Linked DNA regions of Homo sapiens. The protein of the gene in region 1 purifies or fractionates together with the protein of each later gene. This does not show direct contact. Each region holds a gene or a part of one and is shown on either strand. Other genes may lie near its edges. The genes, in order: CNOT8 and LIPM.

Region 1 (3,821 bases):
ATTTGTGTGGTAACGATCTTTAACCTGGCCATGAAGGGAACCCTCTGCTTCTGTCATCTTAAGGCAGGCATTCTTCACTCGAGGGCCATGAACCTAATGAAAAGGTATAAATGCTGTTTGTTAGGGATGGGGTCTGTGGTATAACAGATTCTTAGAGGAGTTCTTAACTCTAGAAAGTTTTAGAACTTGGTACCGTAATAAATTGTTGACATAGAGCTTTGCTGTCTAGAATTAGAGTGGGATTTACTATTTCCTCAGCCTTGCAATTCTGATTTTAATGGCAGAGTTCTGGAAAAATTAACAACATGGAAAGGAGCAAAATGTAGGATGTAGCACAATATAGCGTCTGGAAAAAGGGAATAAAAGAGCTAAAAAGAGGTTACTAAGGCCTGTTAAATAAATGGCCTGTCCCCACTTCTTGCTAGAATTCAGTGAACTCATAACTGCACTTAGTTGGCTCCAGTAGGGGCATGTTGGGTTTGTAATATTATCTTTGTTCTCCATACATCTCCAGGGAGGTCTTCAGGAAGTTGCTGATCAGTTGGATTTGCAGAGGATTGGAAGGCAGCACCAGGCAGGCTCAGACTCACTGCTGACAGGAATGGCTTTCTTTAGGATGAAAGAGGTAAGCTTCCTTGAATGTGATCACAGGCCTCTCGGCAGTAACTTGCTGAAGGCTAAGGAGGTAGTGGATGGTCTGTTATGTGGGCTGAGGTTTGTTGAACATTTATTTTTTATTTATTTATTATTTATTTTTTTTGAGATGAAGCCTTGCTCTGTCACCCAGGCTGGAGTGCAGTGGTGCGATCTCAGCTCACTGCAACCTCCGCCTCCCGGGTTCAAGCTTTTCTTCTGCCTCAGCCTCCTGAGTAGCTGGGATTATAGGTGCCCGCCACCATGCCCTACTAATTTTTGTATTTTTAGTAGAGACAGGGTTTCGCCATGTTGGCCAGGCTGGTTTCAAACTCTTGACCTCAGGTGATCTGCCTGCCTTGGTCTCCCAAAGTGCTGGGATTACAGGCATGAGCCACTCTGCCTGGCCGAATTTTTTGTATTTTTAGTAGACACGGGGTTTCACTATGCTGGCCAGGCTGGTCTCGAACTCCTGACCTCAGGTGATCCGCCTGGCTTGGTCTCCCAAAGTGCTGGGATTACAGGCGTGAGCCACCACGCCCAGCCACATAGACTGTTTTTTTAGCAAGTTGATGTCCACTTTGAAAGTGGTTGTTTTTTGTTATGGTATTCTGCATGTCACATGTTTGAGAGGCAAAAGCAGCATTCTGACGTGAAAGCCACTTTCCAGTAACCAAGTATTCTTGAGCACACCCAAGTCCAGAACTTCATGTTCTTGTCAGCTCTAATCCTTTCAGTTATTTGCTTTTTTTCTGATTCCTGTAATAGAAATATATTTGTTAGGCCACCTACTGACATTATGGTAAGTTCTGTTAATTATTATTAAATAAATACTATATTGAATTTACTATAACCCCTTAGTAAAAATTAGACTCTTAATTTCTTCTTTTAGTTTCTTTACTCACTGACTCAGGTTTTAAAATATATTCAAAGATGTAGAAGGAGTAAGACGCTGCTTTGAAAAATTGAAATATTGATTTTGTTGACACTTTTGAGGACCGGATCAGATTAATTGATCTGTAGACATGGATCTCCTTTTTAGAACTAAGATTGTAGAGAGGGAGAGTACATTTCCTCTTTGTTACTCTTAATTATAAACAACTGTTACCATGTGTTGGTAAATGTTCTAGGTCAGTGATTCTCAACTGGGGATGATTTTGCCCTGGAGGGTACATTTGTTAATATCTGTAGATGATTTTGGTTGTCACAATCTGGTGGGGGAGAGTGGTGTGCTACCTGTCAGGATGCTGCTAAACATCCTGTGATACACTGGACAAGTTCCCCCAAATAATTATCCTACCCCAGTAGTGCCACAGTGGAGAGATCTTGCGTTAAGTGCTTACTGTTCGTTATCTCATTCCTCATAATAACCCTATTATCCTGTTTTATAGATAGGGAACTATGGCTTAAAAGGAGTTTAAATGACTTTGCCAAGGTCAAGTGAGTCCGGCTGAATCCACAGCCCAAGCCCAGCCCATTGCTCTGCCTGTTAAAGAGAAGGGAGCAGTTGTGTTAAACAGCAGCAGCACAGAGATACTGGCAGTAAAAGAATACATGGAAAGTATGTTCAGATAGGAGAGCCTTTCTCCTATAGAGAAAGGAGCATGAAAAGACTGCATTAAAAGGAAAGGTTTAGGCCGGGTGCGGTGGCTCACACCTGTAATCCCAGCACTTTGGGAGGCCGAGGCAAGTGGATCACTTGAGGTCAGGAGTTCGAGACCAGCCTGGCCAACATGGTGAAACCTGCCTCTATTAAAAGTACAAAAATTAGTCAGGTGTGATGACATGCACCTGTAATCCCAGCTACTCGGGAGGCTGAGGCAAGGGAATCACTTGAGCCTGGGAGGCGGAGGTTGCAGTGAGTGAAACCCTGTCTCTTTTTCTTTTTCTTTCGAGACGGAGTCTTGCATTGTCACCCAGGCTGGGGTGCAGTGGTGTGATCTCAGTTCACTGCAACCTCTGCCTCTCGGGTTCAAACAATTCTCTGCCTCAGCCTCCCAAGTAGCTGGGATTACAGGTGCCTGCCACCACGCCTGGCTAATTTTTTGTATTTTTAGTAGAGACAGGGTTTCACCATCTTGGCCAGGCTGGTCTTGAACTCCTGACCTCGTAATCCACCTGCCTTGGCGCCCCAAAGTGCTGGGATTACAGGCGTGAGCCACTGTGCCTGGCCGAGCCTTTCTATACTATTAGTTTTTTTTTCTAGTTTGGTATATTTTCAGGGCTTTAGGAAGGCTGGGAGGTGGTGATGTGGTAGTGGTTTTTTTCTTTTTTGAGATGGAGTCTTCGCTATGTTGCCCAGGCTGGAGTGCAGTGGTACGGCCTTGGCCCACTGCACCCTCTGCCTCCTGGGCGCAAGTGATTCTTCCGCCTCAGCCTCCCAAGTAGCTGGGATTACAGGTATGTGCCACCATGCCCGGCTCATTTTTGTACTTTTAGTAGAGATGGGGTTTTGCCATGTTGGCCAGGCTGGTCTCGACCTCCTGACCCCAAGTGATCTGCCCGCCTCAGCCTCACAAAGTGCTTGGATTCCAGACGTGAGCCATTGCACCCGGCCAGATGTGATAATATTTATACTTGTCATGACTTCTAGCATAACTCTCACCATGGTTCTCTGTCCCATTCTGCAGTTGTTTTTTGAGGACAGCATTGATGATGCCAAGTACTGTGGGCGGCTCTATGGCTTAGGCACAGGAGTGGCCCAGAAGCAGAATGAGGATGTGGACTCTGCCCAGGAGAAGATGAGCATCCTGGCGATTATCAACAACATGCAGCAGTGATGGCGCCAGGCTCTGCAGGGTGGGCCTGATCCCAGAGTGGTGCTTACTGTGCTGACTGTGTACTTATCTTCCCCAAGAGAAAATGCTTCTTTTGAGCACACTGTACCTACCATCTGCATTGAGCAGAAAGACTTTTGTTTTACTGAAGACAAAAGATGTTTTTATTTTAGACCCAGAAGAGAGGAGTTTGCTCTGAATTTGTAAATAAGTCTTCCCCATTCCTCATACTCGAGCCTCTCCTCTCTGGTTGCCTCCTGCCACCAGCATCCATGGCTCATTTGACACCTTTTTAAATATCAGGACAAGTCTGAAACAAAGTAGTAAAATGTATATAACTCTTACCTGTTGTCATTCTTTTTCTTTTAAATTTGTTGCTAATCTCTGATAATGAAGATTCTTACTCTGATT
Region 2 (4,515 bases), on another chromosome or scaffold:
ATGTAATAGAGAAATATTTCACTTTAAGTAATATTTTTTTAACTTTTAACACATTCTTTACTTAAAACGACAAATAAATCAACCCTCCTGACCTGCTCAATCATTAGTATGCTAAGGGATTGTTCACATTTGCCTCACATTCAGTTGAACTGAGACATTTAGTTCATGAAAATAACTAGGCTGCAACCCATTATTTTAAACAATAGCTTTGTAGATTCTGGATATTATCCCTTAAACAACCCCATCAAAAAGTGGGCGAAGGATATGAACAGACACTTCTCAAAAGAAGACACTTATGCAGCCAACAGACACATGAAAAAATGCTCATCATCACTGGCCATCAGAGAAATGCAAATCAAAACCACAATGAGATATCATCTCACACCAGTTAGAATGGGGATCATTAAAAAGTCAGGAAACAACAGGTGCTGGAGAGGATGTGGAGAAATAGGAACACTTACACTGTTGGTGGGACTGTAAACTAGTTCAACCATTGTGGAAGACAGTGTGGCGATTCCTCAGGGATCTAGAACTAGAAATACCATTTGACCCAGCCATCCCATTACTGGGTATATACCCAAAGGAATATAAATCGTGCTGCTATAAAGACACATGCACATGTATGTTTATTGCAGCACTGTTCACAATAGCAAAGACTTGGAACCAACTCAAGTGTCCAACAATGATAGACTGGATTAAGAAAATGTGGCACCTATACACCATGGAATACTATGCAGCCATAAAAAAGGAAGCATTCATGTCCTTTGTAGGGACATGGATGAAGCTGGAAACCATCATTCTCAGCAGACTATCACAAGGACAAAAAGCCAAACACTGCATGTTCTCACTCATAGGTGGGAATTGAACAATGAGAACACTTGGACACAGGAAGGGGAATATCACACACCGGGGTCTGTCGTGGGGTGGGGGAAGTGGGGAGGGATAGCATTAGGAGATATACCTAATGTAAATGACAAGTTAATGGGTGCAGCACACCAACATGGCACTTATATACTTACATAACAAACCTGCACGTTGTGCACATGTACCCTAGAACTTAAAATATAATAAATATATATAAAAAACTAAAATACACAATAGCTGATGATTTATTTACTAGATAATCCATCTAGTCATATCCCAGTGATTAACTAGTGATTACAACTTAAAATAAAAATTTTGTGTATATCTATTTAATTGAACTAGACGAAATGGGCTAAACATGGAAGATTCATTTTCTTCTAATCAATGTTCTCACCCATCCCTAAAAGTAGAAAATGTCCATAAAATTTTAGATATTTTAAATAAAAGCACTTATCACAACACTTATCTTTAACCAAAAAACAGTGATCATTGAAGACCCAGAATATGACTATAGAAACTTTCAGTGCTTTCTGTAGACTCCATCTTTTGCTATCTATCAAAGAAAGATAAAATCTAGGAGTGGAAGGAAAGAGGTTCCCTACACTCCTTATTACCTGGTGATAAAGTACAGGGGTTTTAATAGGCTGTATCAAATGCACAAAATTCCAGGTCACATCAAAGAAAGTTCTACACACCTGGAAGTTGAAGGATTAGGGATTACAAGTTGTGTGAGGGAGGAATGGGAGGAGTCAGATAGTATTGGGACATCCTAGGCAATGTTTCCAGCCTACTTTGTGTTCTTTCCCTACCAACTAAGCTTGCCTAATTTGCTTCAGAATTGGAAGAGGGAATTGCAGCAGGAAAATATGTGAAGAGTTTTTAAACCCACAAATTCTTCTTACTTTAGAATTAGTTGTTACATTGGCAGGAAAAAATAAATGCAGATGTTGGACCATGTTGGAAACCTTGTCAAGACAGTGGATTGTCTCACACAGAATGGAAATGTGGCTTCTGATTCTGGTGGCGTATATGTTCCAGAGAAATGTGAATTCAGTACATATGCCAACTAAAGCTGTGGACCCAGAAGCATTCATGAATATTGTAAGTTGGGATTTCTGGGAAATGAGGTACTTAACATGTTAACGTTTGTATCTGTGTATTATTTACATTATGTATTATATTTATACATGGTGGTGATTCATACTAGAAGAGCATAGTGATGAAGTAGCAAATTGTACTGGAAAGAATGCTAAACTGGATGTCAGTAGACCTGGGGTCTCCTCACACAAATTTAGTAAACTTGGGCAAATGACTTAATCTCTTTGAGCTTCAAACACAATTTAACTTTTCCTTGAACACTTTGGTTCATCCTATGAGTGGAGAAGTAATTAAGGCCTTTTAAGTTCACCCCAGTCCCTTGATTATTTCCATTTTGTCTGTACCTTTTATTCTTTTATTCTTTTTTTCCATATTGCAAAGGTGTCAGCCTTTGCTTCTTGCTATCAGGGCACACACTTCTAGTAGCATCTTATACCATTCTAATCTACTCTTTTTATCCTGTTTCTGGACTGGTACTTTGCTGAATAGCAATAAAAGGACCCCGAGTTAGTGCTACACAGAACCTCCTACAAGTAAAATGCATAAATGACAGTACATCTCTTTAGTTTTCCCAGGAGGTTTTTTTTTTTTTTTTTTTTGGTAGCTTTTCAAATTCTAAGCTGGGTTTTAGTAATGGTCACCCTATGGTAACACTTATCCCATAGCAGGGATTATGACACAAGCAGAGATACTATTCTATTTCAATTTCATTGCCCTGTGCAGTAGATAGGATCATTCACATATTTCAAATCTAGATACTGAGATTAAAGAGGTTAAACAAGTTGAACAAGGCCATACCAATGTAATAGCATAGCTACTATTTAAATTCAGGACTGCCTAAACACAAAGTCTATAATTATAAATACTACGCAATAAACCCTCCCAGGTGAGAAAGAGGAGAGGCTACCTCCAGATGAGTAAGACGATCATGTGCAATGTTCATGTTCCAGAGATTTATCTAACAAACTCTCAGAAAATGGAACTTTAACATGTATTTATACCGATTTAAGACCCTTTCTACAGAAGCTTCCTTATATGGGTTCAAAAACTGAGAGGAAATAGAAATATTCTGTATCTGCATGGTGCTGAATATCAGGTTTCTTTTGACTATTCAATGATTAGGTGGTTTGTCTAGGTAGTTAGCACATTGGTGTCAGTCCTCAGGAGTCATCCTTCTGGCCCTGAGACTGTCCCACTTGAATTCCTCTGGTTTGGAGGTGAGGGGAATCTCTGCAGTGGCAGACAGAGATGATCTTCCTGGGCCCCACCCACTGCGTGTACCCAGCACCTATACACTACTGGGGCTTCAGGAGTCTGTAGACTAAAGCCCATTGAATTGGGCTCTGCCTTTAAGCAGCTATGCCTGGAAAAAAACAAAGTAAAATAGAAAATTCGTACGATTGGTGTAAATTCAACAAAATAGAATAAAAGTAGTTGCAAGTTTGAACTGGTTCTGAGGTAGGAGAAGGGCAGGACTTACTTTCTGGTCCCAACAGGATACAGTGAATAAACAAGCACAAACCAGCAGGTGGTGAAAAAAAAACAGCAAGAACCAGCAGTGGCCTGGAAGGCATCCTTTAGTTGCCCCGGCTGCTCATTAGCATAAGACACTCCTACCAGAACCATGACAGTTTACAAATGTCATAGCAATGACCCACGAGTTAGTACCCCTTTCCATGGCAATGGCCCAGAAGTTACTGTCCCGTTTCTGGAGATTTCTGAATAACCTGCCCCTTAATTTGCATGAAATTAATAGTTATAAGTAGGCATAAATACAGCTGCCAATAGCCCATACACTGCTGACTCTGGGAGCACTGCCTATGAATTAGCTCTGCTTTTCAAGGAGCAGTACCATTCAGTAAAAGATTACTGTCTAGTATTACCGGCTCACCCTTGAATTCTTTCCTGGGCAAAGCCAAGAACCTTCCCAGGGTAAGCCCCAATTTTGGAGCTTGTCTGTCCTGCATTGATTTGACTCTGTATATTCATGCATATGGATTATGGTCTATCTTATACTTTGATGAATAACTGGCCTTATGCATGTATTTTTTAAGCAAGTGTTTACTGAGCACCTACTAGGTCCATGATATTGTGTTATGTACTAAGGTTAGACAGATCTAAGAATATTAAAAGCCCTGACTTTATGGAGCTTATAGTCCAGCAGGAAGGACAGATCATCAATTAGTCATTATAAAAGCAATGAAATAAAAGAAGAAAACATAAAATAGGGGGAACTAATCCAGAAAGCTTTGCTGAAGAAGGGTTTCAAAGCCTGAAATCTGAAAGATAAATGGCAGTTGCTTGAGAGGGTGGTAGCAAAAAGGTCAGCACATAGGACAGCTGGAGCAGCTAAGAACATGCCAGATTCAAGGAGCTGAAAGCAGCTTATATCTGGATGGTCTTTTAAACATTGACTTTTTTATACTATTACAAAAGCAATATATGCTCATTATAGAAAATTTAAAAAATACAAAAGAAGGCAATAGTCACCAATGTACTCTGCACCAAGAACTGCTTTGTCATGCCTTTATCTTCATTCTAAATCTGTGAGGT

Evidence for each region.
Region 2: the proteins of CNOT8 (region 1) and LIPM purify together in Homo sapiens (co-immunoprecipitation; one large-scale study listed by IntAct). This does not show direct contact.

The regions. Positions count from the first base shown.
Region 1 is NC_000005.10:154,872,027-154,875,847, forward strand, and holds part of CNOT8 (CCR4-NOT transcription complex subunit 8), read left to right. Parts: intron 1-514; coding exon 515-625; intron 626-3,263; coding exon 3,264-3,413; 3' UTR 3,414-3,821. UniProt on the Homo sapiens protein: Has 3'-5' poly(A) exoribonuclease activity for synthetic poly(A) RNA substrate. Its function seems to be partially redundant with that of CNOT7.
Region 2 is NC_000010.11:88,801,079-88,805,593, forward strand, and holds the start of LIPM (lipase member M precursor), read left to right. Parts: upstream 1-1,651; 5' UTR 1,652-1,818; coding exon 1,819-1,965; intron 1,966-4,515. UniProt on the Homo sapiens protein: Plays a highly specific role in the last step of keratinocyte differentiation. May have an essential function in lipid metabolism of the most differentiated epidermal layers.